Linked DNA regions of Homo sapiens. The protein of the gene in region 2 purifies or fractionates together with the protein of the main gene of each other region. This does not show direct contact. Each region holds a gene or a part of one and is shown on either strand. Other genes may lie near its edges. The genes, in order: SBF1, RAB6B and SLC12A6.

What was found.
Region 1: the proteins of RAB6B (region 2) and SBF1 purify together in Homo sapiens (co-immunoprecipitation; 3 studies listed by BioGRID and IntAct, with this or other methods). This does not show direct contact.
Region 3: the proteins of RAB6B (region 2) and SLC12A6 purify together in Homo sapiens (affinity purification with mass spectrometry; 4 studies listed by BioGRID and IntAct, with this or other methods). This does not show direct contact.

What each region holds. Positions count from the first base shown.
Region 1 is NC_000022.11:50,444,351-50,447,768, forward strand, and holds the end of SBF1 (myotubularin-related protein 5), read right to left. Parts: intron 3,260-3,418; coding exon 3,172-3,259; intron 3,104-3,171; coding exon 2,972-3,103; intron 2,891-2,971; coding exon 2,792-2,890; 3' UTR 650-2,791; downstream 1-649. UniProt on the Homo sapiens protein: Acts as an adapter for the phosphatase MTMR2 to regulate MTMR2 catalytic activity and subcellular location. Promotes the exchange of GDP to GTP, converting inactive GDP-bound Rab proteins into their active GTP-bound form.
Region 2 is NC_000003.12:133,840,247-133,843,896, reverse strand, and holds part of RAB6B (ras-related protein Rab-6B), read left to right. Parts: intron 1-2,233; coding exon 2,234-2,287; intron 2,288-2,506; coding exon 2,507-2,612; intron 2,613-3,650. UniProt on the Homo sapiens protein: The small GTPases Rab are key regulators of intracellular membrane trafficking, from the formation of transport vesicles to their fusion with membranes. Rabs cycle between active GTP-bound and inactive GDP-bound states.
Region 3 is NC_000015.10:34,327,747-34,331,396, reverse strand, and holds part of SLC12A6 (solute carrier family 12 member 6), read left to right. Parts: intron 1-3,650.

The DNA.
Region 1 (3,418 bases), on a different chromosome or scaffold from region 2:
TAAAATAAATGCTGCATTGGTAAAGCTGGCAGTTGAAACCAGTTGGACGGCCCAGCTTGCGTCTCTTCTGCCTGAGTGGGCCTCTCAGGTCACTCGTGCCCTGCTGGAGGACAGAGGGGCACCTCAGCCGCCCCCAAGCCCAGAGCACAGCAATAAGGTCGGCCTGCAGGAGCCGGGGTGGGGGTGGGGGTGGGGGGGGCAGGACCCTGAGATGCCACCAGGACCTGATGGGCCAGGAAGGGCGTGGACATGGAGGCTGTTTTTACAGTTTTTTTTTTGTTGTTGTTTTGTTTTTAAAGAATACAGAAGGAGCCAAGCTTTTTTGCACTTTGTATCCAGCTGCAAGCTCAGGGCAGAGTCAAGGGCCTGGGTTGGAAAAACCTGACTCACAGGAATGCATAATTGACCCTTGCAGCTACCCAATAGCCCTTGGAGCTGGCACTGAACCAGGCTGCAAGATTTGACTGCCTTAAAAACACAAGGCCCTCTAGGCCTGGCAGGGATGTCCCTGTGCCCAGCACAGGGTGCCTGGCAGGGGGAGACCACAGGTATGCAGGTGGGGGGACATGGTGTGGCACTAGGGGCTCGAAGACTGGTTTCTAGCACTACCGGTCACGGCCATGTCGTCCTAGAAGGGTCCAGAAGATTATTTTACGTTGAGTCCATTTTTAATGTTCTGATCACCTGACAGGGCACCCCAAACCCCCAACTCCCAATAAAAGCCGTGACGTTCGGACAAACCGCGTACTGTGAACCTTCCGGCCCCAAAGCCCCGGCCCGGCCAGGGGTGGGAGAGTCTCCTCCAGCACCTCTTTTGTGGGCCCGCCACCCCCCAGCGTTATCCCCGTGTAATGGGTGGAGGCGGAACAGGCCACATCACGGCATCAGGTCTCTACAGCTTAGCAAATACTGACATTTTTCCGTTTGGGGGATGGGGGGAACCACTTCGCCTAACGCTCAAACACATCAACCCCAGGACTTCCTTTTGTGCCAGCTCCCCCTCCCAGAAGCCTGGGCCCCACCTTGTCCTCAGTGGCTGAGTGGGAGGGGCAGGTGGAGACCAGACCCCCACCCCGCCCCAGCGAGCTTGTCTTTCCACCACGGTTGGGGGTGGAGGGAACCCGCTCAGCTCCCCAGAGGCCGAGTCTCTGCCCCAGCTACACATTGAGTGCCTTGTTCTCGCCGCCTACCCTGTGCCTGGCATTTGTCCTCTCCCCCCACAGACGTGGAACAGGGAGGGCAGGGTCCTTTCTCCCCTTACTCTGACCTGTGGGTTTTCCAGGTGCCAGGAACTTCGGTCAGGCGCCATCTGTCCGGCCTGAGGGAAGACCTGGCTGGTTTCAGTGGCTCAAGTGAGCCCACCCTCACATCTCGCCCAGGTGTCCCAACACCACCTGTGGGGTGGGGGAGGTGGCGGGACCATGCTGGGCCTGACAGGGTCCAAGGCCATCCTTGGCTTCAACGTCCCACCAGGGGAGGGTCTTGGCCCCCCACCTGCCAGCACTGGGCCCTGCCTCTGCAGCTGTCATCAGAACCTTCCCCTCACCCACACCTGCTGCTCGCCTCCCACCTGAGAGGACCACCTGAGGGACCCAGCCTCTAGCCAGGTTCTCTGCCCCTCACCAGCCCCTCTGGCCAGGTCACCAGCTGCCACTCTCAGATGTTCTCTTGGCCTTTGCAGCGTCTATAACCCTCCCCACCTTCTGCTCCTGCACCCCTGGCCAGGCCTCGTCACAGGCAAGGACACAACAGCTCAGCAGGTGAAGCCCTGGGCCTGGTGGGACTCAGGTTTGAATAGGAAAAGAGCAGTGAGGGGCCACAGTGACACCAAGAAGGGAAGGACGGGGGCCCTCTGAGACCCCAGGGAAAGGACTTTTGGGGCAGAATTCCCAAGAACTGAGAGGGTCCATCCCCCATGGGCGTTGGCCCCTTACTCTGCCAGATGCTGCTCGTTGCCTGGCAGGAGCCAGATGTGGTCAACCTGCATTCCCCTGGGAGCCCACTGTCCCCCCCCCCCCCCCGCCTCCGGCCTCCATCCCTTCAGCTCGGGTCTAGCCAGAAACTGACGTCCACCTCAAGTGTCCTCTGGACCTGCAACAGCCTTCTGGGGTCAAATGACCACCCACCCTTTCACCCCCAAGCCTCTGTGAGGTCAGCTTCTGCATCCCCTGGGTAGGGATGGGGGCTTCCTCTCCAGCCGTGCCGGCCCCTAGACCAGCCCTGAGGCGTGGAGGGAATCAAGCAAGTCCCCAGTGAAGCCTCCTGCTCGATCCGCCCCCAGAGCAAAGTCACTCCCAGGGACATGCAGGCCGAGCTGGGTGGACCCAGGCACCAGGAGAGGCTCACGAGAAAGATGCCAACCTCCCGCCAGGTGGGCCTGGATAGGGGCAGATGGGACCCTCTGGGTAGGCCGAGAGCAGGCAGCCGGGGAGTGGGGAAGGCAGGCACAGGAGCGTGGCGTTAGTTCTCTCTTTATATAGACTCTGGTTCTAGAAACTCGCCTGCAGCCGCTGGCTGGACCAGCACACGCTGACGGGGCCGGACTATTTACAGGCCCATTGCGGGCTGTACCTTGGCCACCTCCCGGCACGGTGCTCAGCTGTGACGCCAAAATAAGTTAGGGCCGGCCGGGCGGGGCGGGGCGGGGACGGGGGCTGTACACACAAGTGCTGGGGGCTCGGGGCCTCAATACTGTCGAGGGCCGGGGCTGTAAACATGGCCGGGGCGGCCCTGCCCACCCCTAGTGGTCGGTAACGACCGGAAGCAGAGCAGCCGGGCAGGGCTGGGAGGCTCAGGCGTCCGACAGGCAGCTCTGGATCCGGTCCACCCACTGCTGGGCCGAGGGCACGTCCTGGGCACAGAAGTTGTAAACGCGACGCGTTGTCTTCACCTGGGGAAGGGCGGGTTACTGACTCCGCAGCCCCCACACCGCAGAGCCCCTCCCCTCTCCCAAGCCCCGGCCAAGGCTCACGTCAAAGAAGGCCTTCTCGTCCACAGTCTTAGGGGCACCCATAGTGGGCGTGCCAGGTGCCACAGCCTCCACCTCCGCCAAGTCGATGACACCCTTGCACTCTGTGTCCACACGGTGGTCGTAGTAGCGCAGCTGGAGGAGGCCACAGAGTCAGCGGAGCCCCCTCCCCCGTGAGTCCCCCCCACCACCTGATCACTCACCTGGTGCTTGGTCTTGTCCAGCACGAACCAGCGGGCCTTCCAAGGCTTCATGAAGGCCCCCTTCTTGTACAGAGTGCCCTCGTAGGACCTGCATTTCCAGCAGAACCAGGGCCAGGCTGACCGTCATGGCCCAGCCAAGCCCAGGCCCCAGCAGTCGTCCCCCCCTTGCTGTCCCAGCCCAGGAGGTAAGACCAGGCACCCTGTCCCCAGAACTGACCTAAGCCCAGAGCACTGGCCAGGGGGCCAC
Region 2 (3,650 bases):
CAGGGAGTCAGCCTTCGTTGATGTCATCGCTCCTCTGTCATCCTCATCTGGATGGGCCACTATGACTCATCCCCACCGGACAGTGGGAAAGGGAGCAGCTGTGGGTACTCCCTACCCACAGAGGACCTGACCCCAAAGATGCCTACATCACGTTCACATCCCATTAACCAGAATGTAGCCGCCCAGCTGCAAAGAAGGCTGGGAAATATGTTCTTTATTTGGGGCAGCCCTGAGTCCATCTGCACACCCAGAATTCTGTTACTATAGAAAGGGAAACTACATACTGGGGACAACCAGCAGTCCCTGCCACCAGTCCTAAGCTCATGCACCTGGTTTTAGTTCAAAGGTGACTCTACAAAAGGAGCATGTCACTCCTGGGGAGCCTGTTGAGCATTGAGGAGTTGAGAGACTTCTACCTGCTATGCACATTTCTCCATAAGGGAATCAGAAGACAAGGATTGTCAATCTAACATACACCTGTGAAGGAAAAAGTCTGCATCCACAAGCACTGGTCATTGCAGATTTGTGCCTCGGTGGCTACACTATGCGAAGCTGTGGTAGAAAGAGCCCAGGTGCTGCCAAGTTTGCAGCTCTGATCTTCCCAGCCCTGCTACTGATGAGTGAAGTCACACTAGGCATGTCCTTTAACCCTCTGGTCTGTTCTTTCATCTCCAAAGTAAGGGATTGATTGGATTGTATCTAAGGTGTTTTGTCTAGTGCCCACATTCTAGCATCGTATGCTCCAGAGCGTAGAATGACCCCCCATATCTTTGTGTTATGAGGCAAGCTTCCAGGAGGGTGCAAGCCAGTCTCAGTCCTTTGTGGAACGAGTTGGGAGTGTGACTGTGTAAACATGCACACTTGTGCACACACATTGGTGCATACCTTTGCATTCAGCCTGGGGGGACTGGAGATATGACCTTTTCTATTTTCTTGGGCTTCCTTTGGTTGTGTTTTTTGCAGTCAAAAATCATGGCATTCCACACAATTAAACTTATTTATTAAACTTTATTTCAAAGGACTTTTTCTAATTTTAGTACTGTTATATGTTCATTGTGGAAAGTAGAGAAAAGTGTAATGAAGGAGTGTAATGAAGGAAAGAAAATGCTCTGTCACTATTCAGACCGTGATGCTATTAACATGTTAGCAGATTCCCTTCACTTCAGTGTCTAAGAAAACATGAAAAATACTCATAGATCTATTTGAGTTAATCTAATTGGGATCACTCGCCACATGATGTTTTATAACCTGTTTTTTGTTTATTTGTTTTTTTAACTGGATAACCGTTTCCCCAAATCCTTAAATATTTTTTCAAGAATGTGATTGTTAACAGCTGCCAAGGGTTCTAATCACATGGATATACCACACTATGCTTATTTAGTGCCGTGGACATTCAGGCTGTGTCCAAGTCTTTGTTATTATTGATTACATAGCAGTGATATCTCCATTTTACATTGACAGCATCTCAGTCCTACTGACAGGTACCGGGTGCCTGTGAGGCCCAGAGAGGTTGGTTGCCTGCCCAAGGCCACACAGCAAGTGAGTGGTGGGTCCTGGCCATCTGGCCACAAGGCTGGCTGCCTCTCACAGGTGCCAGGGCAGAAGAGGCATAGGTGTGGCACAGGGGAGCTGGTGACAGCTTCCAATGTTTTGGCTTGGGGAGAAAAGAGCCAGTGGGGCCTCCCAGCGAGAGGCCACTCTGGGTGGTCTGCAGTGCCCGCACCTGAGAAAAGCCATGCTGCTGTTTGCACCCACACAGCAGCAAGCTGCCTGCTCCTGCCCCCTGCCTCCCACCCTCCCGAGGTCAGTGTTGAGCCCAGGCCCATGCTTTAGGGCAGAGGGAAGAGGCTTTGGAAGCTGCAGGTTAGGCCATGAAGGGAACAAGGCAGGGAGTCCAGGTGGGGAGGGCAGGATATGTGCGTTGAGTGGCCTGAGTGGCCTTGCTCCTGGGGAGGCCTCCTCACCACTGCGCTCTCACTGCTTCTGAAGCACTTGCCCTCTCCAGAGAAGATCTCACCCTATAAAGGCCACCCTCATCTTTCCTCAGCTTGATCCCTCAGTGAGAGAGCCGCTGAGTGGTAGCAGGGAGGGGCAGGGAGGACAGAGCATGGCCACATTAGACCTGACATGAGCGTCCCCTCTTGCTGGTTATGCCACCACCTGTGGTCGCTAGGCTTTTGCCCCTTTGCATGAGACCTTTTGATTTTGACCGTTCTGTGCTTTTCTCTAACAGGCAACCATTGGGATTGACTTCTTGTCAAAAACCATGTACTTGGAGGACCGCACGGTGAGCACCTAATATCAGGACTGGGAGGGGCAGGGAGGGTTCCTTTGGGCTTATCCCCTAGGACCCTTAGCTGGGCACCACTGAGAGCACCTGCCGACACTAGGGGCTGGAGCTGGTGATGCCAGCATTGCAGAGCCCGGCTCTCCCAGTCCCCCGGACCAGGAGGACCTCACTGCCCCACTGACCCCTCTGCCCATGGTCCTGCCCTCCCTGAGACAGGTGCGACTGCAGCTCTGGGACACAGCTGGTCAGGAGAGGTTCCGCAGCCTGATCCCCAGCTACATCCGGGACTCCACGGTGGCTGTGGTGGTGTACGACATCACAAGTGAGTGAGGCTCTGCTCCTAAGGGAGGGTGGCTCATAGGGGGTCCAGGGCCCAGGTGTGACCCTGGCCAGGCCTGTGTGCATGTGTGTGCACACGCATGTGTGTGCACACGCATGTGTGTGCGATTGCTCCCTGAATGCAGAAAGGCAGGGAGCAGTGGTGAGTTGCCTTTGAACACCAACATGGTTTCCACTGCTCCCCACCCTCCTGCAACCGACAGGGGTTTATAGGGCCAGGTTGGTCCTGCTCGGAGTGGAGGCCAGCTTGTGGTGTGAGCAGATGCTCACAAGGTTGGCCCTGCTCCAGCCTCTCTGCACCCTCCCTCTCCCTGGCTGTCAGAAAGCTCCCTAAGGAGCTACTTCTATATGTGTGTCACCATGGGAGAAGACGCTGGTCCCTAGGCCAACCCCGGCCCAGCAGCTGTGGGTGCAGGACTCCCTGGGAAGGTAGGCAAGGGGGTCTGGAAGCGCAGTAGGCTGGTAACCCTTCTCCAGTACTGTGGCTCTTCAGGCCAGGGCAGGTGTTCTTAACAGGACTGCACAGCCTCAAGGGCGCACAGGGCCAGAGGTGGGGGTGGGGGGCCGAGGCAGAGGCCAGACCTGCAAGGCTCTTGTAATGGAACACACCTGATAAGCCCTCAGGGCTGTGGTTACCCTGAAGTGGGCGAATGCCCTAGGTGCTGTCCACAGCCTTAAAAATCACACAAGGAAGCATGCATGTCCCCGCGCTGGTGCATGCCCCCGCCACCCAGCCTGCTGCCCTGGCTCTGCCCACCCCTTCTGTCCACCTCTCTTCTGACCACAGGCCCCCTCCACACCTGAGTGCAGGTGGGAGCTGGGCCCGCAAGGGCCTGGGTTCACATGGCCTGAGGCACATCAGAAGGGATACCAGGCTGTGTGAAACTGAGGCTTCTGAGGACAGCTACCTCCCCTCCCCTTGGGTGTGCAGGCTGCCGAGTGGTGGGTATTGCCTTATAGCTGCTCTGCCCTGCAAGGCCTATCATGGCAGCTGAGGGGGGTCAGGCTGCCCAGAAGTGGC
Region 3 (3,650 bases), on a different chromosome or scaffold from region 2:
GGCCAAGGCGGGCGGATCACTTGAGGCCAGGCGTTCGAGACCAGCCTGGCCAACATGGTGAAACCCCGTCTCTACTAAAAATATGAAAACTTAGCCAGGTGTTGCGGTGCATGCTTATAATCTCAGCTACTCAGGTGGCTGAGGCATGAGAACCTGGGAGGCGGAAGTTGCACTGCAGCCTGGATGACAGAGCGAGACTCTGTCTCAAATAAATAAATACCTCTACCCTGACAAACAAAACCTAACAAAAAACAAAATTATCATTTTTAGTCACACACCAAAATAAGTGAATTATATTGTTTTGCTAATCATAGGTGACTATTACTTATTATTATTATTGTTATTATTATTTTTTGAGACAGAGTCTCACTCTGTCGCCCAGGCTGGAGTGCAATGGTGCGGTCTCCACTCATTGCAACCTCCGCCTCCTGGGTTCAAGTGATTCTTCTGCCTCAGCCTCCCCAGTAGCTGGGACTACAGGCACGTGCCACTACACCCAGCTAATTTTTGTATTTTTAGTGGAGATAGGGTTTCACTATGTTGGCCAGGATGGACTATTACCTTTCTCTTAAATAAGTCTTCTATATTATATAATTATTGAATACTATCCATGTTTTACCTCAGCATTCTAATAGCTAAAATATGTTGATTTGGTACCTTCTTAGCTTGTCTGAAAGAAGCATCCTCTTGATAGTTTTGTTTTTTTTGTTTTTGTTTTTGTTTTTTTTTTGAGACAGGGTCTCATTCTGTCAACCAGGCTGGATACAGTGGTGTGATCACGGCTCACTGCAGCCTCAACTTTCTGAGCTCAAGCAGTCCTCCACCTCAGCCTCTTGAGTAGATGGGAACACAGGTGCACACCACTATGACCAGCTAATTTTTTTTTTGTAGAGACAAGGTTTTACCATGTTGCCCAGGCTGGTCTCGAACTCCTGCATTCAAGCAGTTAGCCCACCTCAGCCTCCCAAAGTGCTAGGATTACAGGCGTGAGCCACCGCGCCCAGCTGGTTATATACCTTAACTGTTTTTCCTCTCTTCTCTATACTCTGTAGCCAGATTAAACTTTATAATATACTGCTTTATACCACAAGAAGCAATCAGCCAAATCCAGAATATGGGAAGTTTTATTGGATAACTAGATTCTTCAACAAATAATTGGGATGGGGTGGAGGAGGAGTGATGGGAAGAGAGGGAAAGCTGTTACAGATAAAAAGAGCCGTATCAGCCAAATGCAGTGTGTGAACTTGGTTTGGATTCTGATGTGCATAAAACAATTGAAAAAAGATACTTTTGAGACGAGTGGGGGAAATTTGAACATGTACATGATATTAATATTAAGGAATTGTTAATTTTCTTATAGATGTTTATGACATTGTGATAATGTAAAGCTGTTATCTATAAAGATATATATTGAAGTATTTACAGGTTAAATGAAATGTACTCCAGCTCCTTCCTCCCCACTCCTCCCCAAAAAAGTTGGGGAGAGATAGACAAAACAAGATTAGCAAATGTTTATAATTTGTTGAAGTAGAGTAAAAGGTACATTTTACTATTTCTTAGCTTTTATCTTTGAAGATGTCTGGGAACTCCTGAGCTCAAGTGATCCTCTCACTTGGGTCTCTCAAAGTGCTAGGATTGCAGGCATGAGCCACCATGCCTGGCCAATTTTTAAAAAGGTTAAATTACAATTAAAGGATTTTCTTTTGAGTGTGTCCTAGAATGCTGTAGATATTTGATTAAATATCAGTGATCAATACAGTGATTACCTCAACTTCTTGTCTTTGATCTTCGGTGGTCTCTTCTGTGTCCTCACTAAGTCTTTCCATCATGAGCCCAAATTCTTTTGTTCTCAGTGGCATGTTTCTAGATTCCAGATTCTCATAAATTTTGATATTACCTTTACTGGAATGGAAGGAAATGAAAGAAGGTACTCCTGCAAACCTGGGAACCTTATGAAAGTTATGCTTTCCCATTTTAAAGCTGTTAGAAGAAGGGGAATGTTTCTAATGCTGATGTTTAAGGCAACTTATAATGCTGTAAGCTTTTGAATTATGGCTGCTGCTTCTTTTGCCCTTCGTGTCTAACATATACTTCTGGACTACTAAGAACTTTGTGCAAATTCTAAAAAGGCACTCCTTTGTGCCCTGAGCCATCATGACTTCACTGGAGAAGGGCAAGCTGGATTTCAACCCTCTTCCCCTTGCCCTTCTGGCTTAATGCCCTCGTGCACTGTCTACACAGCTGTAGCTGGTGAGCTTGTTGTTTCAGAATAATGAAGTTACATGAGTTTAAGTTTTTGGTGATGTGTGTTTCTGAGGAGTAGGTATGAAAGTTTGGAGAGCTATAGTGTAGGAATTATGTGAGCATTTGAATGTTAAAACAATGTATTCTTTTAATGAAGTTTTATAAGTTTTACAAGTATGTGGAAAAACAAGAAGCTATTCTCTGTTAAAACCCTGTAATTAGTGCTTCAGTGTATATATGTTTTTATTTTTTGAGACAGGGTCTAGCTCTGTTACCCAGGCTGGACTTGGGTAGGCAGTGGCTATTCAGAGGCACAACTGTAGTACACTGCAGTCTTGAACTCCTGGGCTCAAGCCATCTTCCCACCTCAGCCTCCTGAGTAGCTGGGACTACAGGCATGCACCACCATGCCCAGCTAACTTTTGTATTGGCTTTTGGTAGAGATGGGGTTTTGCCATGTTGCTCAGGTTGGTCTCGAACTCCTGAGCTCAAGCGATCTGCCCATCTCGGCCTCCCAAAGTGCTAGGATTACAGGTGTGACCCACCGCACCTGGCCCTGGTATACTTTTAAGAATCTCAACAATTACATTTGAAGGTACAAGCACAAAACTGCAGAACATACAACATATACACATGCATACAGCACCTTGCCTTAATGGTAGTTCAGTACCTGATGAGTAGGAAACACTATCACCATATTTGCTCAGCTCTAAGGTGTGTACATTACCATATTTTAACATTTCTGATATTCAGGTGCGTCTTACTTTTGAAGAATTTTTAAGCTACTGTTAAAGTGGAATTTATACTTAACAAGATTTCAGAATCAAGTCAGTATTGTAAATAAGTCAGTCTGAGGGGCTTTGCGAAACCTGAAGTTTTGAAGTTACCTTTGGATGTCTTAACTGAAAAAAATGTAACGGCTGAAGTTTTTTTCTTCTTAAAATTTCAGTTTTTGTAGTTGAAAACTGTAGAAATAGAAAACAAAAGCCACATTGTTAGGAAATGACAGGTCTTCTAATTTTAGTCTTTTTTTTTTTCTTTTTAAAATTTCCTGTTATCTTAGCTCAGAGCTGGGTTTCAGTCTCCAGTTTTCTAGCTAATTTAACCAATGGCAGCTTTTTGTTTGTAGTTTTATTACGGCATTGCTAATCCTCATTATATTTGTCGTGGCCTTGAGCAAAAAACTCAATTGATGACATTCACCTGTTTATAGTCATAACCATTTGGTAAATAACTTTAATTTTTGGCAAAGTAGCACCTGAATTTCTCTCATTTTACCAGACAGGTCTACATTTACTTTGGGGTAAAGCTATTTATTTTTCATATTGCTAGTTTAAAAAAAGAGAGAAGAGAGAACACTAATAAGTTAAAAACTCTTATGTACACATCCACGTTTTCACTTTGAG